Linked DNA regions of Homo sapiens. The protein of the gene in region 1 interacts with the protein of each later gene in a pairwise test. Each region holds a gene or a part of one and is shown on either strand. Other genes may lie near its edges.

Evidence for each region.
Region 2: the proteins of TSPAN12 (region 1) and CDS2 interact in binary tests that used the Homo sapiens proteins (3 or more experiments, as listed by UniProt).
Region 3: the proteins of TSPAN12 (region 1) and RFT1 interact in binary tests that used the Homo sapiens proteins (3 or more experiments, as listed by UniProt).
Region 4: the proteins of TSPAN12 (region 1) and TMEM182 interact in binary tests that used the Homo sapiens proteins (3 or more experiments, as listed by UniProt).

The regions. Positions count from the first base shown.
Region 1 is NC_000007.14:120,855,126-120,863,050, reverse strand, and holds the start of TSPAN12 (tetraspanin-12), read left to right. Parts: upstream 1-4,906; 5' UTR 4,907-5,231; intron 5,232-5,842; exon of another isoform or gene 5,843-6,216; intron 6,217-6,217; 5' UTR 6,218-6,287; coding exon 6,288-6,353; intron 6,354-7,925. UniProt on the Homo sapiens protein: Regulator of cell surface receptor signal transduction. Plays a central role in retinal vascularization by regulating norrin (NDP) signal transduction.
Region 2 is NC_000020.11:5,130,000-5,137,022, forward strand, and holds part of CDS2 (phosphatidate cytidylyltransferase 2), read left to right. Parts: intron 1-7,023. UniProt on the Homo sapiens protein: Catalyzes the conversion of phosphatidic acid (PA) to CDP-diacylglycerol (CDP-DAG), an essential intermediate in the synthesis of phosphatidylglycerol, cardiolipin and phosphatidylinositol.
Region 3 is NC_000003.12:53,127,424-53,134,856, reverse strand, and holds the start of RFT1 (man(5)GlcNAc(2)-PP-dolichol translocation protein RFT1), read left to right. Parts: upstream 1-4,421; 5' UTR 4,422-4,456; coding exon 4,457-4,519; intron 4,520-7,433.
Region 4 is NC_000002.12:102,793,030-102,800,052, forward strand, and holds part of TMEM182 (transmembrane protein 182 isoform a precursor), read left to right. Parts: intron 1-4,833; coding exon 4,834-4,971; intron 4,972-7,023. UniProt on the Homo sapiens protein: Negatively regulates myogenesis and skeletal muscle regeneration via its association with ITGB1. Modulates ITGB1 activation by decreasing ITGB1-LAMB1 interaction and inhibiting ITGB1-mediated intracellular signaling during myogenesis.

The DNA.
Region 1 (7,925 bases):
AACTCCTGGCCCAGCCTCCCAAAGAGCTGGGGTTTCAGACATGAGCCACCAAGTCTGGACAAAAGATCTCTTATATTCTATAAATTTTGCTTTCTGAAGAGGAAGCATGCTAATGAAGTTATAAATTTTTGAGAGCCAAAATTATGGTAGAACTCTTGGTATCTCCTAGCACAGTTCTGAGTTTGTAGTAACAATTCAATAAATATTTATTAAATCTGTGGGTGAAGTGAGTCCAAATTTCTAAACTTTGCATGAAGGTCAGGTTTCAATAAAGTTTAAGAGAAAAGTTTTCTAGGATTTCATAGGAGGGTACTGATTTGGGCACTTCTTTAAAGAATTACCTGGTGTGTAAATGCAAATGACGATGCTGAAAGTAAGCTTATGGCATGGGATGGAAATGATGTGATACGAGTTTTCTCAGGGTCCTTTGCTATTGCCATGAGGTTCCTGCTTCAGTGGTTCTTTCAATAACTAAGAAACTTTGCTAAGTAGTGCCCCAAAATGGTTGGCTGAGAGCTGGGTTGTCCTAGCAGTGAACAGGAGAGAGGATGGTACTATGCCTTCCTTTCTCTATCCCTCAGTTCAAATAAAAATCTGACTGTGTTCAGTTATCTACCTTCCTCTCTTTGGCCCTGTGCTTTAGAGAAGGGCTGTCCCAGGCACAGGTAATACATCTTGATTGGTTTAAAACCTGGCCAGTCATGGTGGCTCACACCTGTAATCCTAGCACTTTGGGAGGCTGAGGTGGGTGGATCACCTTAGGACAGGAGTTTGAGACCAGCCTGGGCAACATGGTGAAACTCTGTCTCTACAAAGACAAAATTAGCACGACGTGGTGGTGCATACCTGTAGTCCCAGCTTCTCGAGAGGCTAAGGCATGAGAATCACTTGAACTCGGGAGGCAGAGGTTAAGTGAGCAGAGATGGAGCCACTACACTCAAGCCTGGGTGACAGAGTGAGACTCTGTCTCAAACAAAACAAAACAAAACAAAACAAAACAAAACAAAACAAACCAGTTATGGTAGAACCATAGTTCTTGTGAATAATTGGTAGATATATGAGTATGTGACCAGGTTCTAGCCAATCAATCAAAGGGATAATCTGCTGCAGAACTCCTGGGAGAGGTTTGCTAGATCCTAAGAGAAACTCATAGGAGAAAATACCTTCTTCCTTTGGAAGTAATGGTAACTGAAAATGATGCTTGAATTTGCACAGCCATCTTGTGACCATAAGAGGAGGTACCTGAGTATAGTATGATTACTCATTGTGTGTGTCAGGAGAGTAAGGAGGAAAAAGAACTGATTCCTTGATATCACTACTGGGCAGATGAATCGCTATTCCTGGACTCATTGTTATGTGAAACATATTTGTTTTTGTGGCTCTTTGAGTGCATTTGCTAGTTTGCATAGGGAGGCCAGATTCAACTAATACAAATGTAGGGTTTGCAATTCAATTTGAATTTCAGGTAGACATTGAATAATTTTTTAGTATATGTATGTCCAGTGCAATATTTGTCCCATGCAACATTTGGGACATGCCTATACCAAAAAATAAAAAATTGTTGTTTATCTGAAATTTAAATCTAATGAGGTGTCTTGTATTTTATCTGGCAATCCTAAGCTTACAGTAGAAAGCAGTCTACTTAATTCAGTAATGAAAGGATTTTCTCAGGTCTTATTAGGTCTGTATACTCTTTTAGAAGTGAGGTGAAAGTAGATTTACCAGTCATAGTTTAAGTACACATATTTGAATTTCAGCTTCATATTCTCGAAAACTAACTTTAAAAAGTTCGAAAATTTTCCTCTTAAGTCTTGTCCAACCAGATTTGAAATTTTATTGTAATGCAGATAAACAGTGGAAAGAATCAGACAGATCTTAGAATCTCAGCTTCTTTATTTACTACCTGTGTGGGTCTGGCAAAAATCAGCTATCTGAATTGATTTCAAGTATCTCAACATATAGTTATGAGGAATTAATAAGATAAATTGTGAGAAGCACCTATTATGTCAGACACATGTAATTTGTTCAAAACACATTAGGTGTCTATCCCATATTAATTGTAAAGTACTGGCTTAGGAGTACTTGTGAGGGTCTTGTACTAAGAAGGAATAGCAACTCATACATCCAAACTCCTGTGTTATCCTTTTTCTCTCCACAACTTTAGCAGAATGAATAGAATAAGATATGAACAAACAAGCTGCCATACGGAGTGAGGAACTTGTATTCTCTTACATATAGCTGAGTTTTACTCCTGACACTGGGACTGACATGTATGTGATTCCTTGTAAATGCTTATTTTATTACTTTTTGATGTCATTATTATTGTTATTATTATTATATAATAAGAAAGGATAGTTTTGCCTTTTCTTGGAGGGTAAGAACTTGTCTTAGTATCTTCAGCATGAGGCACAGTAGATACCACCACTGAAATGATACTTATTGGAGAACACCTGGCCACAGAATTGGGTTCCTGACTAATGGGTAGTAAATAGACCATACAATTTTCCTAATATGTTATTACATATTCAAATTTTTATGTGCATATTATGATATTTCTATCCTCCTTTTGTTCACACACACAAAAAAACAGATCTCACAGAGAAAAATATAGAACCCTCAGAATGACAGCTGCGATGTGAAGTCTTACTGTGCTTCCACAATTCTGGGAAAGAGAAGAATTGGAGAGGGAGGGAAGAACAGCTGCCTTCAAGTAGTTGAAGGGCTGTCATATGGGAGGAAGGCTTGCTCATGCCATGGACTCCAAGGGCGGAACTAAGGTTGAAGGGTAGAAGTTAAAAGGTGGTATGGTCAAGTTTAAGCAATAAAAACTGCCCATTACTGCAATGTCTCAAATGTGGTGAGGTCTCCTCTACTGAAATGTTGATTCACTGTCTCTGATGACCATTTATCAGGAATATTAGAGCAGTAACTACAGCTCTGTTTTCTTCTTAACTTGTAAAATGGGGATAATAATCCCAATTTATCGACTCACAGGAGAGGGATTTGATCCAACGAAATCTAAAGAGACCCTTTTGCTAGTTTTTAGGCAGCTGTAAAGCCCTCGTTGCAGGGTTTTCAAATTTTGCTGCAAACTAGAATTACCTTGGGAGCTTGGAAAACCCTGTGTGTCTAGGCCTCACCTGCAGAGACTCCGATTTAAGTGGTATCAGGCATGCCAGAGAATTAGGGTTGTTTCAAAGCTCTCCAAGTGATTCTCGTGTACAACAATTTCGAGAACCATTAAACTAGAGTACTAAGAGCCATTATTCTGGATTTTACTTTGGAATCTAGGTTGGACTACAGATGTGACGTTGAGCAACTACTTTATCTTGGATCTGTATTTCTTGTTTACCAGGAAGAAGAGGACATGCATACTTCTAAAGTAACTTCCTCTAGTATTTTATTACTTTAAGGCAGTTGACCCTTAAAGGTATACGAATTAAGGAAAGGGCACTTAACTACCTTCTAGGAGTAGAAGAGGATCTCTGCTTTGACACATGGGAATTGTTGGCACTCTTTTTCTCAGTTTTAATAGCAGTCATGGACTCCTTTCAATGCGGGGATGTTTATACCTCTCCGGGGAATGTATGGCACCAACAGCATTTGGATGGCTGGTTGTTTCAGCAGTCCTTTGCTTAAAATAGGCATGCACCCTAATTTGAGAAGAAACTGGCAGAGGATAAAAGTGGGTTTCTTTGCTCTTCCCCAGTATTCTAGAAGCTGCTTCATTATCAGAGTTGGAGTCATCTGATGGATAACTGGACATGTTTCTTGGTGTTTTTTTTGTGTATGGCTATACTTCTTTATACTCTTTTGGGTTGCTGTCTTACATACTGCTTAGTGACTTGCTTACCAATAATTTTCCTAGCCTAACCCAGGACAACCATGTTGTCTTTTGGTCTTGACTTTTCCATATGAGACTGCATGTCTTATTGTCACTCCAGTCATGCAGCAACTAACTCTAGACAGGCAGTCATGGACATAGGATTCCATTTTTTTTTTTTTTTTTTTTTCTGCAAGGAAATCCAAGGACTCCAGTTATTAGGTCAAAGATGTTGCTCGTATTCCAGGTAATTCATATTTGCTGGTGAAGTTTTATTTGCCATGCAGTGCCCACAAAAGTAATCCTAGAAATGAGCAGTACTGTGAGGCATAGCACAACACATCCACATTTTATGTGGAGGATATGATCCAGTGGCATTTTATTTAGTGTGAAACTTCTGTCTTCTAAAAGGGAAGATTCTTTTGGAAGGATGGTCTCCTGCTGTGTAATACTTCATGAATTTCTAGTTTAAAAAAATTAGATTTTCCAAAGATCCACTACTATGTACACATTTCAAAATAAATCACCCAGTTAACTCAAAACAATCTTATCGTGAGAAATTTTGGAAAGCTTGAGTTACTTCTAAGAGTTAAAAATGTTCTTTCCTCCTCTTCTGCATGTCAGACTGCACATGATTACTCTGATGTTTCCGTAAATGCTATTAGTGCACTATGAAAGTGGGAAAGAACTTAAAAAAAAAAAAATCCGGGAGGGCAACAAAGCAATAAGAAGGATCATAGGGCACCATGTTAATAACAAATCACAGGAGGTGGCTCCATAAAGGTTGTGAAAACTAGTTTCTCATTGCAGGAATTGGGTTGGGCCACCCCTTCACCCCCCTTCTCAAACACAAATATTATCATATAATAAAAGCCTGCTTCTCTATGCTTATAACCCAGCCTCCATTCCTTCGACGCCACCATTTTAAAGGGATTTACTGCACGGACTTCTCCCAAGTTCCTAGGCATTATCTTCTGGACCCTATCCTGCAGAGGTGAAGCGTCCCTTTGGGGACTCTCGCTGGGTGAGAGGGACAAGAAACACCCACTAGGACCCAACCCCGGCAGCCAGCGGCTCGAGCATGCGCTGAGAGTTTGTGCAGCTGGCCCTGGCTGCCGCCGCTGCCTCGTCCGGACTCGGAGAGGACTTGGGAGGGACAGCGGCGCTGGGAGGTGGCTTAGCAGAGACTTTCCAGCAACTGCTGCCCAGGACTTTTTTTTTTTTTTTTCTTTTTCCCAGGAGGCGGCGACGGCGGCGGCGGGGGGAGAGGAAGAGAAAGAAGCGTCTCCAGCTGAAGCCAATGCAGCCCTCCGGCTCTCCGCGAAGAAGTTCCCTGCCCCGATGAGCCCCCGCCGTGCGTCCCCGACTATCCCCAGGCGGGCGTGGGGCACCGGGCCCAGCGCCGACGGTAAGTGGCCACGCGTCTGTCGCCTTTCCTGCCCGCTGTCCCGCCAGCCCGCCGGCGGCTGCCCTCCGCGCTGTGTGCTAAACTACTTAAGGGCTGGCTCTGGGGCTCCCTGCCGCCGGCGCTTCCCCTCGCGCCCTGCCGGGGGCGCGCGGACGCGATGGCTGGGTCGGTGGCCGCGCTCGCTTTGTGCTCCGCGGGCGGCTTTGAGCGAGGGGTCGCGGGAGCGTCCCGGGCGGGGGAAGCGGGGTTTGAATGACTAACCCGGCGTCTGCACAGCTGCATCGGCCCTAATTCCCCGGCGCCCCCCGCCCCCCGCCCACTGTCCCAGGCTAATCCATCATTCTGGGGCCGAAAACATCATTTCTCACGTTCTCCCAGAGAAACCCTAGTAGCCGGGCGGAATCTCAACTCCGCGCTGCCCCCTCGCCCCCGCCCCCGCCCCCGCCCCGCCGCCCCAGTCCCTTGCATTCACACCCGAGCTGCGGGACGGGGTAGAGGGGTGCGGAGTTGGAGTGCCCAGGAACTGTCCTAACTAGAAGGGCGCTCATTCTCTCGGGCTTGCCGGTGGCGCCTCTGACGTGTCCGGGGTAGGGGGCAGTGTGGTTTCTCACCTTCAGGACAGTGCCGAGCACAGCTGTCCTCGAGGAGGGGCGTGGAGTGAGGGAGGTTTTCAAGAGCGTCTCATCAGAATGCACAGGGCTCCGCCGCGTGTCCCCTGAGAACGCGAGTTTACTGTGCGACTTCATTCATCCGGATAGTTGCTCTTTTCTTTTCCCAGCAGGTGTTATCTGAAGCCGGTTTGGAACTTTTGGGAGTTTAGTTACCATTATGATTTTAACAAATGATTTTTGATGAGGCGATGTCTCGAATGCACTGGGCCTCGGGACCCTCTGGACCCTGCTGAGGGCGGGTGGAGGAGGGACGGGCAGGCTGTGGGAAGCGTGATGGTGAGATGTCCCGTGTTCTCTCTCCCCCGCCCCCTGCAGATCGCTGCCGTTTTGCCCTTGGGAGTAGGATGTGGTGAAAGGATGGGGCTTCTCCCTTACGGGGCTCACAATGGCCAGAGAAGATTCCGTGAAGTGTCTGCGCTGCCTGCTCTACGCCCTCAATCTGCTCTTTTGGGTAAGTAAGTTTCACTGCACCAACAGGTGGGAACGGCTGGCTCTGGTTTTCTGCAGCCACCGGATAATGCGCCAAAGGGCATGGCTAAGCATTAATTAATTACATGGGATAACACCCTTTATTTTTCAGAGAAGTAAAATTTGACCTTCTTAAAATGCCTTTGATCTAGCTCAAGTTCCATTTGTAATTAGAACAAAGAAATCCACCCCTGGATACTACTGGCAGTAAAATTAGACTTGAAGTTAATCTAGGGATATAAATAAATGCACGTGCTTCTACTCATAGATAAGAAAATTATGACATACTACTTAGGGAACTGCTTGTTTGCGGGAATTTTAGATAATTGTGCAAGCCATAAATTGTTTCTTTACATCTCTGTCGCCTGTAAAATCTAGTTGGGCCAAGTCTTAATATATTTTTTGTGGGCGGGGACGAGGGGGAGGTGGTGGTGGAATTCACACCCAGATAACCTATCACAGAAAGGCTGAGTAGATTTGTCTAGGGGATTCCATACGGTCTGAAGGGTGATTTTTATGTAACTAATTCTAAGTTGGCAAAGTTTAAGGAATTGTGTGTATGCTTTTGGAAAATCCCATAACCATTTAAGGAAATAAAATACATAAAATGTAACAAGCTCATGGAAATCTTTATGCCCTATGAGTTAATGACTTTTTATGCTTTAAATCTTAATAAAGTATGATTAATAATCGTATTATTACTTATAAAACTTAGGAAAATGTAACAATTTAAACAGTAAATGTTGCTTCAGGAGGCTGCCATTCTTAAGCAAATTGTTCTTTCCATTTTTTTGTGTTCTATTAATAATTTTATTCAAAATTTTCTGTTACAAATTTTATTGTGCAATTTATTTATGTGGCTGACTGGCTGGCGTGCTGACTGGCTGGCATTGCCCAGCCTTTTTTTCATAGGGCTATTACATGTGGTCTCTAGAAGATGACATTTAGGTTGAACTGCACCTTATAGATGGCCCCATTTTAAAGGATAAATTAAGTCTTACTTCAGTGAGTAATCTGAAAATATCTAAAATGGCAGCATTCCTTTTCTCAACATTAAAGCATTAATTTCTCAAAATTAAAGCATTGGGTAGTTAAATTCACCATTTGGAAATGTAAAATCACAAGTTGATCTTATTGTAGTTTATACTTCTTAAAAGCTTGATTTTTAAGTGAATCATTAAATTACCTGGATCATTAAAAGTTATTAAGAGTTTAAACTCCATTTCTTTAAGATGTATGATAATTATCACTCCTGTTTACTAGTTTTTCACTTTTCTACATTGTGCTTTTTAATTATAGAATCATCACATTCCACTTCTAAAAGGAGCTTTAAAGATGGCCTGGTTGAACGTCCTTCCTTTGTGAGTGAGGAAATTAAGTGCAGATTAAGTGACTTGCCAAAGATCAGATAGTCCAATGGTGGCAGTGCCAGGAACAGAATTCAGCTTTCTTGCCCCTAGACAGTGTCTTTCACTTGACCCTTACTGAGTTTTGAACCTTAGAATTACTAAGATTGTTGTTGTTGTTGTTTAATAAAGAATAAAGCTTTGAAAAA
Region 2 (7,023 bases), on another chromosome or scaffold:
TTCGCTCTTGTTGCCCAGGCTGGAGTGCAATGGCACAATCTCGGCTCACTGCAACCTCCACCTCCCGTGTTCAAGCAATTCTCCTGCCTTAGCTTCCCCAGTACCTGGGATTACAGGTGCCTGCCATCACGACTGGCTAATTTTTTTGTGTTTTTAGTAGAGACGAGGTTTCACCATGTTGGCCAGGTTGGTCTCGAACTCCTGACCTCAGGTGATCTACCCACTTTGGCCTCCCAAAGTGCTGGGATTACAGGTGTGAGCCACCGTGCCCGGCCCATAGTAAACTTTTAAAAAATCCTGATTTATTCTGTTTCATAGTTTGGGAAACACCTACTTCCATGACTTTGGCTTTGCCAATATTCTTGTGTTAGAACCCAAGGAAATTAGAAATAATAAATTTTAAGGAAATGCATTATGAAACAAGAACTTTTTAATTTCATAGTAGAAGAATCCAGTGAACAATTTTCAAGTCAGTGCTTTAAAAGCTCTGGAATAGGCTGGGCGCGGTGGCTCACGCCTGTAATCCCAGCACTTTGGGAGGCTGAGGTGGGCAGATCACCTGAGGTCAGGAGTTCGAGACCAGCCTGACCAACGGGGTTTTAGTAGAAACCCCGTCTCTACTAAAAATACAAAATTAGCCGGGCGTGGTGGTGCATGCCTGTAATCCCAGCTACTCAGGAGGCTGAGGCAGGAGAATCGCTTGAACTTGGGAGGCAGAGGTTCCGGTGAGCCGAGATTGCGCCGTTGCACTCCATCCAGCCTGGGCAACAAGAGCCAAACAACGTCTTAAAAGAAAAGAAAAGCTCTGGAGGCTGGGCGTGGTAGCTCACGCCTGTAATCCCAGCACTTTGGGAGGACGAGGCGGGTGGATCACGAGGTTAGGAGATCGAGACCATCCTGGCTAACATGGTGAAACCCCATCTCTACTAAAAATACAAAAAATTAGCCGGGCGTGGTGGTGGGCGCCTGTAGTCCCAGCTACTCGGAAGGCTGAGAGGCAGGAGAATGGCGTGAACCTGGGAGGCGGAGCTTGCAGTGAGCCGAGATGGCGCCACTGCACGCCAGCCTGGGCGACAGAGCAAGACTCTGTCTTAAAAAAAAAAAAAAAAAAAGCTCTGGAGTAAACTTGAAAGATTCCTCAAAATGTTACAGTTGCTTAACTGCTGTGGCAAAACTGTCTTGTAAATAGAAAATCATTAGTATCAAAATAATCTGGAGCATGTTTATTTATAAAAGTCAGAAGGTATTTTGTTATATTTAGCATCTGAGAATGGAATTTTCAAAGCCAATTGCTAATAAAGGAAATGTTCTCCTCTGGGAACTGTGCTTATAATTTTAAAGTCCCAAAGCACAGTATAGTTGCCAAACTAAGAAACTTGGAGTTTAGGCTTTGGGAATGATCCTCTTCCTACCCAACCATATTTTTCTGATGGAGCTTAGGAAAGCAAAGGATGAGATATGGTCTGAAAGATTGGCATCTTAAAATTTATGATTGAGTTGGCATTTCAGGAGATTTTGTTTCGGAAGTTAGCGTATAGGTTCTGGGGTTTTCTGCTTTACTTAATTGCTGAAGTGCTATTTAAATTAGAGCTTTACTTATTTCAAGGCTTCCTTTCTAGATAGATGAAACCCATATGGAGAGGAAATAGTGACATCATTTAGAAAGGGGAGTTTAAATCTTAACTGAAGATAGCGTGTAAGAGCAGGGGCTTGGGTCAGTTACATCTACCTTGAGCCTGGGCTCCGCCACATAAAGGCTGTGTAACTTTGAGTAGATCATGGAAGTTGTGGCAGCCTCAGTTTGTCCATCATTAAAATGGGGGTCATAAAATTGTATGTGCTTTACAGGATATTCATGTGGATTAAACGTATGTATGGGCTGACAGCAGAGCTTGTCACATAATATGTTAGCTATGTTGCTACTGATTAAAATAGATTTTTATAGAAAAAACTTTAATATTCATCTTACACACTTGAAAGGTGATTAAATCTTCAAGTTATATATATTTGTAGAACCTATTCATATTCATTACCTTTTAAGGAAAGTTTTATAGAAAGGACTTAGCCTTCTATGACCTATCTTCGGTTTATTTTCAATTTTAATTTTTTTTTTTTTGAGATGGAGTCTCGCTGTGCCACCCAGGCTAGAGTGCATTGATGTGTTCTTGGCTCACTGCAGCCTCTGCCTCCTGGGTTCAAGTGATTCTCCCATCTCAGCCTCCCGAGTAGCTGAGATTACAGTCACATACCTCCACGCCCAACTAATATTTTTATTTTTAGTAGAGACAAAGTTTCACCATGTTGGTCAGGCTGGTCTCAAACTCCTGACCTCAGGTGATCCACCCGCCTTGGCCTCCTGAAGTGCTGGGATTACAGGCGTGAGCCACCGCGCCCGGCCTCTTTTTGGTTTATTTTCTTGTGGAATTTTTCAGTACTCCGAATCACAGGCTTTAACTGTAGAAGGACCACTGAACACTGTTGTATGCAATTACCTTCTTTTATAATTAAAAATGGTTTTCAATAGACTTTGAGATTGAACTACTCAAATAAAATATTAAAGAACTATAACTACTTCAGGTATAAGAGAAATGCTTAATTTTTTTCAAGAAAATTTTTTTATGTTGAGAAATAATTTAGGAATTAAAAAAATCAGTAAACCTTAACTATGATTCCCAGGCTTAACAGGGAGAGGAGGTGAAAGATTATTTTCTCATATAACCAATTATTTTATGTTTCTTATTTTTGTTGCTCAAACAGTATGATTTTATTTTAAAAACTCAATTACTGCATGATTTTTGACTATTTAAAATTAGTTTTTCCAAAATCTATTTTTAAAAAATGTTTTGTGTTTGCCCAGGTTAACATGGTATTTCATTAGAAGAATTTTTATCGGCCGGGCGCGGTGGCTCACGCCTGTAATCCCAGCACTTTGGGAGGCTGAGGCGGGCGGATCACGAGGTCAGGACATTGAGACCATCCTGGCTAAGACGGCAAAACCCCTTCTCTACTACAAAAAAAAAAAAAAATTAGCTGGGTGTGGTGGCGCCCGTAGTCCCAGCTACTCAGGAGGCTGAGGAGAATGGCGTGATGGCGTGAACCCGGGAGGCGGAGCTTGCAGTGAGCCGAGATCCCACCACTGCACTCCAGCCAGGAGGACAGAGCGAGACTTCATCTCAAAAAAAAAGAATTTTTATCATCTTTAAAAAATGTTAAATTGCTCTCCTTGGTTGTTAGGACTAGAAGGGACTTTAAAGGTGTTTTTTATTTTTAGGAACAGGGTCTCACCTTGTTGCCCAGGCTGGAGTGTAGTGGCACAGTCATAGCTCACTACAGCTTTAAACTCCTGAGCTCAAGCCATCCTCCTACCTCAGTCTCCTGAGTAGCTCAGGACTACAGGCCTGAGCCATGGCACCCGGCTTGAGGTAGTTATTTTATAGAAGAGGATGCCACAGCTCAGAGAGTTTAAGTTATTAGCTCAAGATGACTTAGTTGGTTAGATACAGAATGGTTCGTATTATGAAGGTCTTCTATTTATTTATTTTTTGAGACGAAGTTTCGCTGTTGTTGGCCCAGGCTGGAGTGTAATGGTATAATCTCAGCTGACCGCAACCTCTGCCTCCTGGGTTCAAGCAATTCTCCTGCCTCAGCCTCCTGAGTAACTGGGATTACGGGCATGCCACCACGCCCAGCTAATTTTGTATTTTTAGTAGAGATGGGGTTTCTCCATGTTGGTCAGGCTGGTCTCGAACTCCTGACCTCAGGTGATACTCCCGCCTTGGCCTACCAAAGTGATGGGATTACAGGCGTGAGCCACCGCGCCTGGCCTATGAAGGTCTTCTAATTCCCGGTTGTTGTTTTTTATTTTTTTCTCATAGAATTAATTTACAGACTTTAAAAGCTTCTTTATTGATTAACATTGATAGATATGATACCCAAATGTTACCTATTTTTCTTATTTGGCTACAAAATCAAAAAAATACTATATAAATCTTTCAAAATGTTAAATGTTAAAAAGGTCTCAGAGTAAATGTGGAGACTCTTTGCAGAAAAAAATGTATGTGTTTTATAGAGAAAGTTGATTAGTTTCAGTTTTCCTGGTTATCGGATGACTGTGATTTAGACATTTGTGAGCACTTTCCTGGGAGTGGCCACTCTGGTATCCTTGAAAGGCACTCCCGGCGCAGTGCTTGAAGACCACAAGGCGCCTTACCCAGGCAGTGGGTGAGGGTGCTTGGAAGAAATGCTTTCCAGTTAATGACTGTTAGCATGAGAACCATTTGTTCTAGTAATAAGCAGTCATTCAGTATTCAACGCTTCTCTTTAGAACATTCACTGACTGTAGGGTCTGCTATGGACGGTGTCTGTATTTCTGAGAGGGGCTGGTGTTATCAGTGTTCATAAGGATATTATTCAGAATTTTATTGCCTGTTTTGACTCCACATAATCAATTTTTTCCCTACTGATTTAAAGAAATAATACAATCTTTTTTAAATCAATAATATTTAAGAGTTTTATTTTTATTTATCTATTTATTTTTTGAGATGGAGTTTCTCTCTTGTTGCCCAGGCTGGAGTCCAATGGCGTGATCTCAGCTCACTGCAACCTCTGCCTCCCGAGTTCAAGTGATTCTCCTGCCTCAGCCTCCCGAGTAGCTGGGATTACAGGCGCCCACCATCACACCCAGCTAATTTTTATATTTTTAGTAGAGACAGGGTTTCACCATGTTGGCCAGGCTGGTCTCAAATTCCTGACTTCAGGTGATCTGCCTGCCTTGGCCTTCTACAATGCTGGGATTACAGGCATGAGCCACCGTACCCAGCCGACTGCATATTTAAATTGGTAAGGTAGAAAATGAGCATGAGAGTCTAACAGCTGATGGATATGGGAACATAATACTTGATAAAATCATTCAGAATATGTTTGATAAACAAGAAGATTGTATAAAACCTGCACTGTCCTACTAATGTAAAGCATTTCTCCTCCCTCACTTTATTCTCAACCTTACAACTGCCAGAAATTATATAATCTTGAATATATTTGAGAAACTCTTTTTAAAATGAATCTTGTAACTAATTTCTTTTTTGAATTTATATATATAAATATATACATACTTATTTTATAATAGAGACAGGGTCTTAAAATGTTGACCATTGAACTCCTGGGTTCAAGCGATCTTCTCGCCTCGGCCTCTCAAAGGGCTGGTACAGCGTGAGCCACCGTGCCCGGCCATTGTAACTAATTTCACAGGGCAGATAATCATCCTTTAAACTGTTTGAAAAGATTTGAGTGTTACTGTTTCTGGTTTTCACACTTTTCCATCTTTTCTAGGATCCACGTAGGTGGAGGAGATTCCTCTCCACAGTTTGTTAAGCTACATTCTATGTTGTTAAGGTCTCCCAGCCCTTCTGGACTGGCACTAGAGGCTGTTGGGGGTGAAAAAGTACAGCTGTTTGTGTGTCATACTGCCTCTGGTTCAGAAAAGAGACGGACACTGACTCTTCACTATTAATTTTGCCAAAGTCTCCTTGAAAGAATGCTAATTTGTTCCTGGCACTGGGCAGGGTTCCTGCCTTCCAAGTCTTGTCATGTGGTGGTTACTTGGCTGGGGTAATAGTGAGGCACCCCCTCCCCACCCCCACGTATGGTCCCCACCGGGCAGCTTCCTATGCCAGTCACTGATATTTGTTCTCATGTTGTTTGCCCCAACAGTAGGGATGGCATTGAGCCCACTAAGTTGACTGACCTTTTGAAGAAAGTTAAACTTTATGGTGTTATTTTGAGTAGGCAGTCTGTGGTGCAGAATTTGTAGGCAGCAAAGGGTATTCTGTGAAGTTTCCTTTCTCCCGCCTGCCTCTCCCCAGGGACAGCCTCATGCCACACTGTGGTTCTCATGAGCACTGCTGTCTGTGTGGAAGGACCTGACCTGTCCTACCAAAGTCAGACATCTTTTTGATTTGTTGTCTTTGGCAGAAGCTCCTTTGTATTAAGGTCTCCATAGGGCCAGCTTGGGGCTTCTCTGTAAAGACTTTGCTGAGGTTTTGAGAGTTCCTGGGACTTGGGATTTACGGGCAACACTCTCTGCCCCTGGGTCTCTGATGTGGAGAGGATGTCTGCCATTGACACCGAACCCCTGAGTGGGCAACTCTCAGAGCCATATCTCCACAGTCCATGCCTGGCTAGTCCTGTGGTTTCAGTGGTCTACAAGACATTCCTAGGTGCATGCCCTTCAGTCCACACAAACTGACTTTGTCTCAAATCTGAATTCTCTCATTCTACTCTTACCACCCTCCTTCAGTTTCTTTCTTCTGCGATAAAATCCCAGATGACTCGGTTACTCAGGCTTGAAATCTCCTATTCCTTTGTTCCCGTGCCCAGGGCAGGATGCAGATTCTAACCAGGTGTGACTTGGAATCCTTATCTGTTTGTTGTTTGTTGTCTGTTTGTTGCTCTTGGAGACTTCAACATTTCAGGACTGCAGTATTGTAAATGCCTGCAGTATCCTAAATCCGAATTCCTTACCTCTCCTGGAATCCTTATCTGTCTTTTACTCTTTGAGATTTCCCAAATTTCAGGATTTATTGCTTGCCTTATTGTAAACCCTGTGAATTGAGCTCCCTCCTGTTAGGATTTGCTCTAGGTCCCTCCTAATCCATCTTGTTCTTTGTATCTTTCAGGAGTTCTGAAACTGCCCTAATAATTATTGGGGGGGTGGGGTGGAGTGATAGAATTCTGGCTCTTTTTCATAATGCTTAAACTTTAAGATCCTTTGTAGTCTTCTGTCTCTCATTTCCTTCCAATTCTTGTTTTAGGTTCAGGGGATACATGTGCAGGTTTGGTACACGGGCAAATTGCACATTGCTGAGGTTTGGTGTACAAATGATTTTGTCACCTAGGTAGTGAGCATAGTACTAGATGGGTAGTTTTTCAATCCTCACCAGCCTCCCACTCTCCACCCTCAAGCCCTGGTGTCTCTTGTTCCCCTCTTTGTGTCCATGTGTAGCTCCCAGTTCACTCTGCAAGTGA
Region 3 (7,433 bases), on another chromosome or scaffold:
TCTCCTGCCTCCACCTAGCTGAGATCCATGGCCCAGCTGGCCAGAGGTTCCACCCTGTCTCCTGGCCCACTAGCAGCCTCCCTCCCTGCTCCTCTGCCCTAGGAGCCTAATTGGCTTGGCACCAGCTCTGGCACTTCCCTCCAGCTTTGTAATAAAATAGGTGGCTTGGGTCAGATTTCCCTGGCAGGGAGGCTACCTGGCACAGACGCAGGAGGCGGGGAGGAAGGCTGGGGAAAACGGCTCCTTCAATGACCACCAGTTACAGCCTGGTATTCTCAAGGGGCCACTTCCTCTCCAAGAGGACCAAGAGTACAAGAGCCCTATGTACTTGTCTTTCTTCCTTTCCTAGTCCTTCATCATTCATTTATTCCAATGCACTTACACATGCATTCATTCATTCAATATTGAAATGTTTACTATATCCCAGGTGCTCAATGGTGATCACCAGGAATTGGCAAAGTTTTTCTGTAAAGGGCCATCTAGCAAATATTTTCAGCTTTGTGGACCAACCTATTCTGCTGTTGTAGCAAGAAAGTAGCTATTGATAATATGTAAACAAACGGGTACGTGTGCTATGTTCCAATGAAACATTATTTGTGGACACTGAATTTTTTTTTTTTTTTTGAGACAAGAGTCTCACCCTGTTGCCCAGGCTGGAGTGCAGTGGCATGATCATAGCTCACTGCAGCCTTGATCTCTCCAAACTCAAATGATCCTCCCACCTCAGCCTCCTCAGTAGTTGGGTCTACAGGCACGCACCACCATGCCTGGCTAATTTTTGTATTTTTTTGTAGAGATGGAGTTTCACCATGTTGCCCAAGCTGGTCTTGAGCTCCTGACCTCAAGCAATCCACTCACCTTGGCCTCCCAAAGTGCTGGGATAACAGCCGTGAGCCACTGTACCTGGTGGACACTGAAATTTGAATTTTATACCATTTTCATGTGTCATGAAATATTCTTTTGATTTTTTTCCAACCATTTACAAATGTAAAAACTATTCTTAGCTTGTAGGCCATACAAAATGCAACGTCCAGTGGGCCATTACTTGCCAGCCCTGAGCTGAGTCCTCCATGGGCAAGACCATGGAGTATGCAACTCCCAGTGGAGCGTGCAGGCCAGTATCTCCAACAGGGTCAAGACCTTCAGAGATCCTCACTGGGGAGAGGGAATGCCTCCAAGCCTACCACAGCTCGACTGCTGCAGCCCTCCCAGACTCCACTCTCTCAATGCCACATATGTTCTCTGTGGCTTACATATAGGGACTCTTAGGTCTCCTTTACAATCAGAAGCTTTTTTTGAAGGGAGGAACATTACTGTTCACGCATTTGGAATCAGAAGGGACCCGAGTTCAAATACCTCCTTGACCATTCCTTTGCTGAATGACCTTGGATGAGTTACGTCACATCCCTGTGCTTCAGTTTCCTGATCTGCAGTCCCTCTCTCATAGGTTATTGACAGGATGGAGTACACGCATGTAGAGTGCTCAGACAGGTGCCTGACATGGAGTCAGTGGTCAATGTTTGTGGATTCTCCTCACAGTTCCTTTTTCCCCACCCACCCCAGAACCCAGCACGGCTCTGGGCTCTGCTCAGTCCCTCCTTGCCAAGTGTTAACTTCCAGAATAAGAGAAAAAGTCCCTGGATTCCTCACCCAGGAGCCCCACAGAGTCCATACCTTGGGGTCCTAGAATGCTTTGCCCTTTAGACTTAGCTTGGAGCATTTCCCCTTTGACTTCTTTGCTCCTAGCAAAATGATCACTTCTTCCCTCCCAAAGCAGCTTACATGGATGCCAGGCTTAGGAGTGTGTGCACATGATGAACTCTTGGCTGGTTCTACTCTGGGGATGAGCTGTAGAGGAGGAGACTGCTTGGCTGGGAATAAAGGAAGTGGGAGGCTGTCTCACCTGCTGGCCCACAGTCCAGGGGGGTGGGAAGGCTGCCCAGGTCAAGGTCTTTAGCATCTCAGCCATTATGCCAAATACCTGGACCCTCCAGCACTTTCTCTATTCTCCAAGTACACTCCTCCCCAGGTGGGTGCCCAACTCACTCATCCTAAAACAGCACCCCTCTCTCTCTTCCAAAGCCTCTAGGATCTTACCTGGTTTCATTCTTTCGTAGCACTTAGCCCTATGTGAAATTTTATTTGTTTGTTAGAGTTTTTTTCAGTTTCCCTTTCACTAGAATTTAAGCTCTCTGAGGGCCAGACTTGCCTGAAACAATCCTTATGACTATTTTTACAGGACAGATAATATCCCTATTTAGTAGCTGAGCATACTGAGGTCACCCAGTCAGTGAGTGGCAGAATGAGGATTCAAGGTCAGTTCTCTCTGACAGACAAAAGCTCACATTCTTGGGCAGGGTGCAGTGCGGTGGCTCATGCCTGTAATCTCGGCACTTTGAGAAGCTGAGGTGGGCGGATCACTTGAGTCCAGGAGTTGGAGACCAGCCTGAGCAACGTGGGAAAAACCCATCTCTACAAAAATCACAGAAAAAATCAGCCAGGTCTGGTGCTGCACGCCTGTAGTCCCAGCTAATCGGAAGGCTGAGGTGGGAGGATTACCTGAGGCCAGGAGGTGGAAGCGGCAGTGAACCAAGACTGTACCACTGCACCCTAGCCTGGGAGACAGAGCGAGACCCTGTCTCAAAAAAAAAAAAGAAAAGAAAAGAAAAGAAAAGAAAAGAAAAAGAAAAGCTCACATTCTGGGCCTCCACACTAAGACAGAGCTCATTTCACCTGGGAAGATGGGAGTGATAGGCTTTGAGTTCCACAGTCTGTTTCCAGCAGCAGTAGCAGCAGTCATGTGTCAGGAGACATTTATAGGAGCCCTAAGAATGTTCTGTACCGCTACTTCAGGAAGCAAAACCAGGCAGGCTGCACTTCTGCCCTCTTGGAGCTCATGGGCTGATTATATAGAGACACATATTCTAGTCTTTCTGCTATAATGCAGATTGCATTAGGAACTATAAAGGGGTACAGAGTATTTTAGGGGTACTGTCTTGATTTGCTTGGGCTGCTGTAACAAAATACCATAGACTGGGTAAGTCAAAAACAGAAATTTCTCTCACAGCTCTGGAGGCTGGAAGCCCAAGATCAAGGTGCTAGCCAGTTTGGTTCCTGTTAAGTGTATGTTGGGCGCCTTACATTTTACAAAGCCTTCTTCGTGGTTGCAGACAGCTACATTCTTGCTGTATCCTCAAATAGTAAACACAGAGATCATTTTTCTGACATCTCTTTTTATAAGGACATGAATCCCATTATGACGGCTCCACTTTCAGGACCTAATTACTTCCCAAAGGCCTTACCTCCTAATACTATCACACTGGGGATTAGGCTTCAACATATGAATTTTGAGGGTACACAAACATTTAGTCCACAGCAGGTACCAGCTGTGGTTGGCCAGGAAAGTCAGGACAGTGTGGTCTAGGAGGGCAAGGGGTGCTGTCAGGGAAGACACTTTGGACAAAGAGGGTGGAGGAGCAAAGGCCAGTGAGTCACCGCCTGTTTGAGGACCAGTAAGGACTCGGAATGGCTATGGCCTAGATAGTGTTGGGAAGGGCAATGATCGTGTGAAAGGTAGTAGAAGATAGGTTGGGGCCAAATCATGTGAGGACTGAAAGAGATTGGGGAAAGACTGGGCTTCCTACAGCCTGCTTGGTAGATAATAAGAACACTGACAGAACAGCAGCTGATTGTGTATGTTGGGCGCTTTACATTTTTTTACAAAGCACTTCCAGTCCTTCTTCCACTCTGCCCTCACAATTTCTAGCATACAGGCAAGAGTGATAAGTTTAGGATCAGGAGCCTGGTATCCACTTAGTCAGGAAACAAGTTGTGTAGATTCGAACAAGTCACTTCCCATCTCCAAGGCTTTACTCATCTCTAACCACAGGGGCCAATTCTCAGAGCTTTCGGAAGGATTTCACAAAACCATACACATAACAGTGCTATATCTAACTTCTGGTCCTCAGTTCTTTCTCTGTTAAATGAGGACAATTCCTGTCCAGCCTAATTCAGAGGGTCTGTGGCTGTGATTCTGTAAGCAAAGGTCAATGGTGAGAATCTTCTTAACGGGCCAGTGAGAAGTTTGTTCCCCTTTTGGCAGATGAGGCCAGGAAAGTTAGTGCTTCTTGGTTGGTGGCTGAAAGCCTCAGAGAAGGAACTTTGGATTCTTTAACGGTATCTCTTAGTACTCGCCACACTATTTCGTTTATACGGGGAAGAGAGGGACAGACAGCGCACAAGCGACAGACAGCGCAAAACCTACCGAAATAGAAAGAGCCAGGCGCCATAACAGACGGCCCGAGACAGGCCCACTTAAAGGACCAGAACTTCTCGTGCCCCGCCCCCCTCTCTCAAGGCCATCAATCAGACAGCGAGGCGCGCCGTGACGCCATCTTATCGCGACTAAACGGAGTGGCGGCGGCATTTCCTGGTGTCTGAGCCTGGCGCGGAGGCTATGGGCAGCCAGGAGGTGCTGGGCCACGCGGCCCGGCTGGCCTCCTCCGGTCTCCTCCTGCAGGTACTCTCTGCCCTTCAGGTTCCAGCTTGTACTGCAGCCGGGATTCGCGGGATGGCAGCCCTTGGGCCCTTGAGAGCCTGCCCCAGGGCCGACCCAGTCCCGAGGTGGACCCCGCAATGGAGGGGGTGGGGGGGTCGACCGGAGACGGTGGCATTGATGAGGGGGGACCCTGGCCCGGAGATAGGAGCCTGCCTTTAGAGTCTAGGCCGGGTGACTGCAGACAAGCCGCTTTCCTTCTGAGCATTCTATTTCCCATATGGCAGTAGGAGTGAATTAGATCAGGTGGCGGGGGTGAGGGACTGGTATTTCGTGCTCGAGAATCTGATATTTTTCAGGCAAGGGGTTCATTTCCTTCATCAAACACCTTCCTCAAACTTTGAGTCCCACTGAGTTCCGAGAGTCCATATGGCATAGCTAAGAAGAGAAATCTGGAGTTAGGCTTGGATTGCTCCGTGACCCAGGACAAGTGACTTCACCTGCAGAGCCTGAGTTCCTCACTAGTAAAATGGGGGTAATAATATGTCGTACTTAGCTCATAAGCAGGGATTGATTGGGATCATTCAAATAAACGTACTTAACACAGTACCCGGCTCTTAGTATGCATTTAATACATGTTGGCTGCATCTTCTGTTTATGTGATCTTGGACAAGTCACTTCCCTTCTTGGCCCTAATTTTTGTCATCTGTCAGGTATGATACAGGCCAGTTAGTCCAAATGGTATCTGAAGATTCTTTCAACCCCAGGAGCTGAACCTCTTAAGTCAAGTGGCTCAGTATCTCTCTGTCTCACTCTTGAGCCAATCAACCCTACTTCACACAAGTCCCGAATCTACCCTACCCCTTATCTTAGAGAGGCACATGGAGGGCAGAAGAAAGAACCAAGCAGAATGGGGCTTGAGTTTGGGCCTTGTCACTTGCTAGATGCCTGCCTTCGGGATAAATCCGATGACTTCTGTATCAGTTTCTTCATCTTAAATGAGAATCATAGTGCAACCTCACAGGGTCATTAGGAAGATTAGATGAAATCATGCCTCTTAAGTGCCTGGCACACTACAAGTACTTAATAAATGTAGCTATTTTTATTAGGGTAATAAGTATTTTTAAAATAGTCAATGTAGGAATGAAATGAGATAACCTATGGAAAGCATGTTGAAGAGTGCCTTGCACGTGATATGTGCTTAGTAAATGTTAGCCATTCTAAGTTTACCTAGGGATTTTTTTTTTCTGTTTCACTACATAAATAACTGAGTTTATTGTTTTATCCACAATGTTGGTTTTTTTTCAGCCTTTGATAATATCTTACTACTCAGATAGGCTTCATAAAACGAAAACAAGTTATAACGGAAAACACACTGGACTACGAGTCAGGTGGCTTACCTGTAAGGTCAAGCTGGGTCATTTACTTGCCGTGTGACAGTGAGGAAATCACTTAACCCTCAGTCTTGCTTCCTGTGCATTTACCTCGTTGTTTTTAGTGTCAAATAATTTAACAGATGTGAGAGAGCCTTTTTGTTAAAACTGTAAAGTTGGCTGGACGCGGTGGCTCATGCCTGTCATCCCAGCACTTTGGGAGGCCAAGGCAGGAGGATTGCTTGAGCTCAGGAGTTGAAGACCAGCCTGGGCAACATGGTGAAACCTTGTCTTTACAAAAAATACAAAAATTAGATGGGCGTGGTGGCATGCACCTGTAGTCCCAGCTACTCAGGAGGCTGAGGTGGGATGATCTCGAGTCTGTGAGGTTGAGGCCTCAGTGAGCTGTGATTATGCCACTGCACTCCAGCCTGAGCAACAGAGTGAGACCCTGTCTTAAAACAAAAGCTGTAAAGTTCTTTGCAGAAGTAAATGAAGGCTGTGTTGCTAATAAGGACTGCAGTGTGTGGCAAATACTGGGTGGCGTAAGCAACCTCAGTTTCATTAGCTGCAACCTTTATTCAAACCAATTAGGAGACATGGATATGGCCTGGAACATTAAGTTTCTTAGACAGTGGTAACTTTGAGGTTAACATAAGTATGTACACATGGTGTTTTGTTTTTTGTTTTCGAGATGGAGTCTCACTCTGTTGCTCAGGCTGGAGTGCAGTGGCACTATCTCGGCTCACTGCAACATCCGCCTCCCGGGCCCAAGAGATTCTCAGGCCTCAGCCTCCCAAGTAGCTGGGATTACAGGTACCTGCCACCACACCTGGCTAATTTTTGTATTTTTAGTAGAGACAGGGTTTCACCATGTTGGACAGGCTGGTCTCGAACTTCTGACCTCAAGTGATCCACCTGCCTCAGCCTCCCGAAGTGCTGGCATTACAGGTGTGAGCTACCGCGCTCGGATTTTTTTTTTAATAACCATATTTTTATATGGTTTCTTGAGTGTTTTCATTCTTGTATGCTTTCTCGAATTACACTGTAGACACTTCAGGTAGCTTTGTGGTTACATTTTATTCTGCAAGAATTTGAGAGCTTGTTCTATCTTAATTCTAAGCCACCTATGCTGAAAGTATTAATGCCTTTCATTTGTATGCACTTAAAAAATGCTTTCACTTCTACAGTCTCATTTCTTTTAAAAATATTTCTTGTAGAGATGAGGTCTCACTGTGTTGCCCAGGCTGGTCTCAAATTCCTGGCTTCAAGTGATCCTCCTACCTTTCAGCCTCCCAAAGTGTTGGGATTTTCTTTTCTTTTTTTTTTTTTTTTTAAGATGGAGTCTAGCTCTGTCGCCCAGGCTTCACGCCATTCTCCTGCCTCAGCCTCCCGAGTAGCTGGGACTTACAGGCACCTGCCACCACACCCAGCTAATTTTTTGTATTTTTAGGAGAGGCGGGGTTTCACCGTGTGAGGCAGGATGGTCTCGATCTCCTGACCTCATGATCCGCCAGCCTCGGCCTTCCAAAGTGCTGGGATTACAGGCATGAGCCACTGCGCCC
Region 4 (7,023 bases), on another chromosome or scaffold:
TCTGTGTGACCTGGTTCAGGATCCCTGAGCCTGGGCTTCCCTGGCTCATCTGATTCGGGCTGTCAGTGCCTCATGTGAGCTTCTGCTCTGCTGCTCATCACCTCACTTTCTCAGTTTTCCAGTTCCTAGGGGATCACAAGGATGATTCCAATTCATCTTTCAAACTGTTCTTCAGAAGGCATGGGTCAGAGGTCACCGTGCATTGGCTCTGTGTCAGGTATCTGCTCCCATTTACTGATGTTTTAGGTTTGTAGGAGTAGAGTCATGTGATATGGAACATGGCCACTACCTTTTTAGGAGGTAAATGGACAGAAAACGTTCCCATGAGAGATGGTATGAGAACTTCGTAGAACTTTCTGTATCAGTAGTCTACTTTGCCCAAACATGACTACTGCACTCTAAGCTATCATTTAAAGAGATGTTCCAACCTCAGTGGCACATCAGAAACAGTGTACAGCCATCCAGTTGTCCCTCAGCATCCACATATAATTGTTTCCCGGACCCATCCCCCTGAGGATATGAAAATCTGTGAACACTCAAGTCCCTGATATAAAATGGCATAGTATTTGCATATAACTTATGCACATCCTCCTGTATACTTTAAATCATCTCTAAATTACTTCTAATATTTACTACAATGCAAGTACTAGGTAAATTGTTGCTATACTGTATTGTTTTACAATTTGTATGATTTTTATTGTTGTATTGACATTTTTTGTTGTGTTTTTCCTAAATATTTTTGATCCATGGTTGGTTGAATCCACAGATGCAAAACCCAGATAGAGAGGGCTGACCATACAAGCTAAGGGAAAGAATACATGTTCCTATTGCTGAACACAAGACCCCCTGCTGTGCAGTGATAATGCAATCTTGATAATAATAGCAATAAAAGCCACCACACATGGTGGCTCATGCCTATAATCCCTGCACTTTGGGTGAAGGTGGCAGGAGGATTGTTTGAACCCAGGAGCTTGAGGCTGCAGTGAGCTGTGATTACATGACTGCACTCCAGCCTGTATGACAGAGCAAGACTCTGTCTCAAAGAGAAAAAGAAAAAAAGAAATGCCTTTTATTGGTTTCTTATTATATGCCACACACTTCACATACATTGTAAGTCATTCTTCTAATAGTTCTAAAGGATGGACACAAACATCTCTATTTTACAGAAAAAGAGACTTCTAGGAGTTTCAGTAACTGGTCCAAAGTTACCTTGCAAGAAAGTGGTAAATACTCAGGTCACTCGGACTCCAACACCTATGTTTTTCTACTGTATTATGCTGATTTTTTAAATTTTAACAAATATCATTTAAAGAAACTAAGACAAGAAATAGATTCTACTTTATTTACATGGATATTAATCATTTCTGCTGCTCTTCCTCTGTTTCTGAAGTTTAACGTGCACTCCGGTGTCATTTCTCTTTAGCCCAAAGAACTTCCTTTAGCATTTCCTGTAGAACAGGTCTGTTGATAACACATTCTACTCTTTCCTTCTTCACAAATGGCTTCACCCTACCCTTCTTTCTATATTTTCACCACGTGCAGAATTTTAGTTGAAGGTCTTTTCTTTCAGCAGCTTAAAAATGTTTTCCCACTGTCTTTTGGCTTCCATCATTCTTGATGAGAAAGTTAGAGCCTTGGGATTATTTCCCCATATGTTTTATGTAATGATTTTTTCCTCTGGCTGCTTTCAAGACTTTTTTTTTGTTTAGAGTTTTTGGTAATTTTATTATTATGTGTCTTGACTAATTTATAGGAGTTTATTCGCTTTGGAGTTTGCTGAGTATCCTGTATCTGTAAATTTGTGTTTCATCACATTTGGAAAGTTTTCAGGCATTACTTTTATGAATATTTTTTCTTCACCAATATCTACGGCCTCTGCTTTAGGACTCCAATGACACAAATGTGAGAACTTCTGATATTGTTCCACAAGCCTTTGAAACTTCATTTATTTTGTTTTCAATCTTTTTTCTTTCTGTTTCTCATATTGAATAATTTTTATTGCTTTATTTTCAAGTTCACTTACTCTGTCCTCTCTCATCCCTGTTTTATTATTGAGTCCATTGCATGGGTTTAATTTCAGATATTGTGTTTTCTAATTCTAAAATTTATTTTTGTAATTTATAGACCTTATAATTTCTTTATATTTATTTCAAGAGTATTCACCCCAGTCTATAGAAAATGGTTCTAATAACTACTTTCAAGTCTGTCTGATAATTCATATATCTAAATCATCTTTGGTTTGGCTGTCTCTTTGATAATTGATCAGATTTTCATTATTGTTGGTATATCAAGTAATTTCAGGTTGTATCCTGGACACCTTGAATTTTATGTTGTCAAAATTCAAAGTGTTAAATTCAGTGGAGAATTCACTGTTAAAATTCTCTGGATAATGTTGATTTTTAAAAAATTTGATTATTATTATTTTTTCGGCAGGCAATCAACCAACCCAATCTGTCCCTTTCTTCTGTGGTGGCAGTTTCAATTTTAATTCATTTTTCAAAGTCTATGTGATGCTGTTTGTGCTGTGCACCCTGGGGCGCACACCACTCAGGGCTTGCTCTGGAACCTGGACGGTCTTCAAACTGTAATTTGGTTCTTAAAGACTTTGCTATGCTTCTTGGTCTGTTTCCTGTGCATGTGCAACTTGGGGGTGTGCTTGGTATTTGTGTAGGTTCAAACGTGGAATTTTAGAGTCTTTTCTTTAGCTCTTTTCTCTGTGGGATTTTCTTTACACCCTCTGGCTCCTCGGACTCTTTTTCCCAGTTTCTCTGGCCAGAAAGGTTGAATTCTGAGTTCTGGCCTCCTGCGCTGTGGCACAGTTCCATGCAGCCATGACACATAGCAAGCAGCAAGAGAAAGGAGAAAAAACATAACCATGATTCCTCCCTCCTCTTTGCACAATGAGGGTTCCTTTTTGTGATTCCTCTATCTAGAGGGTTGGGTCATCATTTGGGATTTTAAGTGCCCACGCCTCCACTGGGGCAGCAGTGCAGACCTGTATTTAAAGCTGATCTGGAGGCAGGACTAAGGGAATAAAAAGAGGAAAAAATAAACATGGGGATTTACTCTGGCTTTAGGGGGCTATTTTCCTAGATTTCTAGGAAATGAATTCAACTAAAGATTTTTGCTATTCGCACCTTTTACACAGTTCCCCATTCGCTTGCCTTCAGGCCAAATCCATGAGGAAAAAAGAAGAAAATCAGATAACTTTGCAACTTGATCTCTGTTAAGACTTGACTTTCCTTCTCACTCCACTTGCTATTATTTACTTTCAGTCCTTATATGGTTGCTTGTCATACTTACCTAGTTTTAGTTGTGATCAGTACAGTCGTAGAATGGATTTCTTATTCTCTGAGCTGCTTCTTGTTGTTAATGATTATACCCCTAGCACTTGGCACAGAAGCTGTCCTGTGAAAGATAACCTCAACCTATTTCTAAATGAAATAAATGAAAATGTAAAATGTGAGACTCACCAATTGCCTAATAAACTATGGTAGGACAAGGACAGCAAATATTTGGCCACACTCTGCAACTCGTAATTTCCATACTCAAAGCTGACATTAGTATCTCTTCACTGCCCTGTTCCCTGCTGAGCCTGAATACAACTGCAGAATATTGTCTAACACAGCAGCCCTGGAAACCATGCCAAGTGGCCAGCACTGGTATGGGAAGTGAAAGCCTATCATGTATTCCTGTTTTCAGGACTTGGTTATTCACATAAAAATCCGAGCCTTCCTTTTCCATTTAACTGAAGTGACTCCTCTTCTCAAATTTCCATCCTCCCATCCTCTTTCCTGTAAAACTCCAGTTGATTGATAGATTTCTTCTTTGCCAGGAAGGCTTCTTGAGAAAAAAAAATATTCTTTTCCTTCTTATCAAGTTGTATATTTTCTTAAAATATAACTTGACTAATATGTTTCACTGAGCGTTCCCCCATCTATACTATCAAGAATTTATTTTAGCTTTTTATCCTTTTGGAAATGATGAAATTGGTTAAGATTGGTAATTATCCAACTCAAAAATGATCGTTAGAATTCCTTTTTGTTTGATTACCATATATCACCAAACCTACTATTTCTTACCAGCTGTTTCCATTAATTTAGCCTTGCTTGTCCTTGACTCCTATAGACTCCTATACTTCTCATTTTGAATCTAAGTGAAAATATTAATAGAAAGAGGTAAGCCTTAAATACATCTGATTTAAATTATCAGATTTGCTTGGAAAGCATAGCTAAACGAACTTCTTTTATGGTTTTGCTTGTCATTTTTTATTGCCTTAGACTGTTTTCTATAGAGCCAACAATCTAAATAGAAGTGGATATTTTTGTTGTGGTTAGGGGCTTGGGGTGACTATTATCAGCTCTCAGAGATAATCATGGTACAAATATATCTTAGAAGAAGATGTGAGGTAGTGTTTGTAAATAATGTGAATGCATTTACATGTGTTTGGACATTCGGTATGAAACACTTCTAGGCTACCCAACTGGGTACTTAAATGGGAGAACTCTTTAGAAGCAAGAACCTTAGGTCTTCTTGCTTCTAAAATGGAAAATCGTGATGGAAAAAAGAGCTCCCACAGTATATTAAGCATGTGTGTGGTACAAACATTGAGCAAGAGGAGTTGATTGAAGGTCACCAGCTTGGACATCACTGATTCCAAGGTCATCTGATAAGATCTCCTGTTTGTTCAGACCCATCCCTGGCATTCTATCTAGCAGTGCCATAGCTGAAATTAGAAAAATGAAGATGAAAGCAACTGACTGTGACAATCTGCTGTGTACACAATCTAAGTGTATTTTTCTTTCTTTTCTCTTTTCCTCCTGGGGTCTCCAGTTTACCGTGGTTTCTGGGCAGTCCTGATGCTCCTGGGGGTAGTTGCTGTAGTCATCGCAAGCTTTTTGATCATCTGTGCAGCCCCCTTCGCCAGCCATTTTCTCTACAAAGCTGGGGGAGGCTCATATATTGCTGCAGGTACGTACGGTGCAATGGGTATGACTTTCAGCCACGGTTTTTCTTCATGTCTTTCTATTTTTCATTTCTATATTCAGGCGTCAGCCTTCTAGTAACAGTAACACAATAATATTTGTATACAATACTTCTTGAACACTAACTAATAATATTTGTATACAATACTTCTTGAACACTAACTGTGTGTCGGACACTTTTCAGGGACTTTCCCTTTTCCACATGCTGACACATTTAACCATCATGATAGTCTCTGCTCACTGTAAGGCCATTATTATAAAGAGGAGAACACTGAGGCTTAGAGGAGAAAACTCTGTCACTGACTCACTCCAAGGTGTGTAAGAGACTGTTAACCTCTTACCCTATTAATTTTCTGTCTGTAAATGGGGATCGTAACATAAGTCTCTGTAACATATCAGCATATGATATGGGTAGGCATTTTCTGAGCTCTTCAAAGATAGCCCTGTGATGATATTTATGATAAGCATACACTCATGATTTATCATAGGTACAAAAATATTTTTCTACATCACTCCCATTCATTTTCTTAATTGTTTGTTGATGCCAGGTGTGGTGGCTCACACCTGTAGTCCCAGCACTTTGGGAGGCTAAGGTGGGTGCATCACTTGAAGTCAGGAGTTTGAGAACAGCCTGGCCAACATGGTGAAACCCTGTTTCTACTAAAAATACAAAAAAATTAGCCAGGCGTGGTGGCATGTGCCTGTAATCCCAGCTACTCAGGAGGCTGAGGCAGGAGAATCACTTGAACTCGGGAGGCGGAGGTTGCATTGAGCGAGATTGTGCCACTGCACTTCAGCCTGGATGACAGAGCGAGACTTTGTCTAAAAAAAAAAAATAATTAATTAATTGTGATCCATATGAATTATCTGAATATATTATTTTCTGTGTGAAGCTTGCATTTATTTTAGTTAGGTTTCTAACTAATTTAATTTCTGCTAAAATGATCACACTACAAATAGAAAAGTAATTGAAGAGGTGAGTCTTGTGAATTTTAAGCCCTTTTCATTTAATTAGGCAGTGAAAGCCAGACTATTAACTTGGAAACATAAGCACAGGCTATTATTTGTAAAGATAATTCTAGAAAACTAGCCAAACTTCAGTATGACTGAGACCAAACTGTACATACTATGCTGTATTGTAACATCAAACCAGAGTGACAGAGTGCTCCTAGGTGACACTGTAGTGACAGTTGAAGGAAAGGAACAGAATGGAGAAGGTTACTGTCCTTCTAATCATTGGAAAGATGGCTTGTGATGCTGCCCAGTGTCATTTCATCAGTGCTCAGGTAACACAATACTTTCTGCATAAGATTGTGCTTAATTCTGCAGAGGGAATAAAAATAATAATCAGATCTAGATCCTGTATTTTGTAGGGGCCAAGAGGAACAGAAGGTTCCCTGAAAAATCCACTTGGAAAAGGCAGATTAATTGAAGAAAAGGCATACATATAATTTCATGTGTATACCTGGGAGCTTTCAGATTGAAGACCCAAAAAGATATGGGCAAATTGTCCATTTTTATGCTTAGGTTCAACAAAGGATGGGCAGCTGTGTAGAAATATGATTGGACAAAAAGGGCAGGATCTAATGGTCATAGACTAAGTGGGGAACCCAGCGAGGCCTGTCCGTTTAGCTTCTTCATGGCTTCACTGAGCAGCACGCCTTCCTTCTGGGTGTGGGGCGGGACCCTCTCTGGAATTGGCAAACAAGGTAGGTCCGGTCAATTCCTTTGTCCTTTGTGGCCAATTTTTACACAGAAAGGTGGAGGGAGAGTTAGAGTAATATGTTCAGGTTTCGTGGCTGGCTTTGGGGAAAGGAGTTCTGGTTTCTATGATTCACCTTTGTGGAGAGGGGACCTTTGTGGTTTCTAAGGCCAGCCTCGGGAGAGAACAGGACTGGGAGGCAGGAGGGCAGGAGAAGGTCAGAGAAAAACTTTTGCTCCTGAGGCTGCTGCTGGGGCTTCATTTTGGAGTTTTGTTTCCTGAGCCCCAACAGTTTAAAGAGCTAAAAAAAAAAATCTCACTCTGAGAAGAACCCTG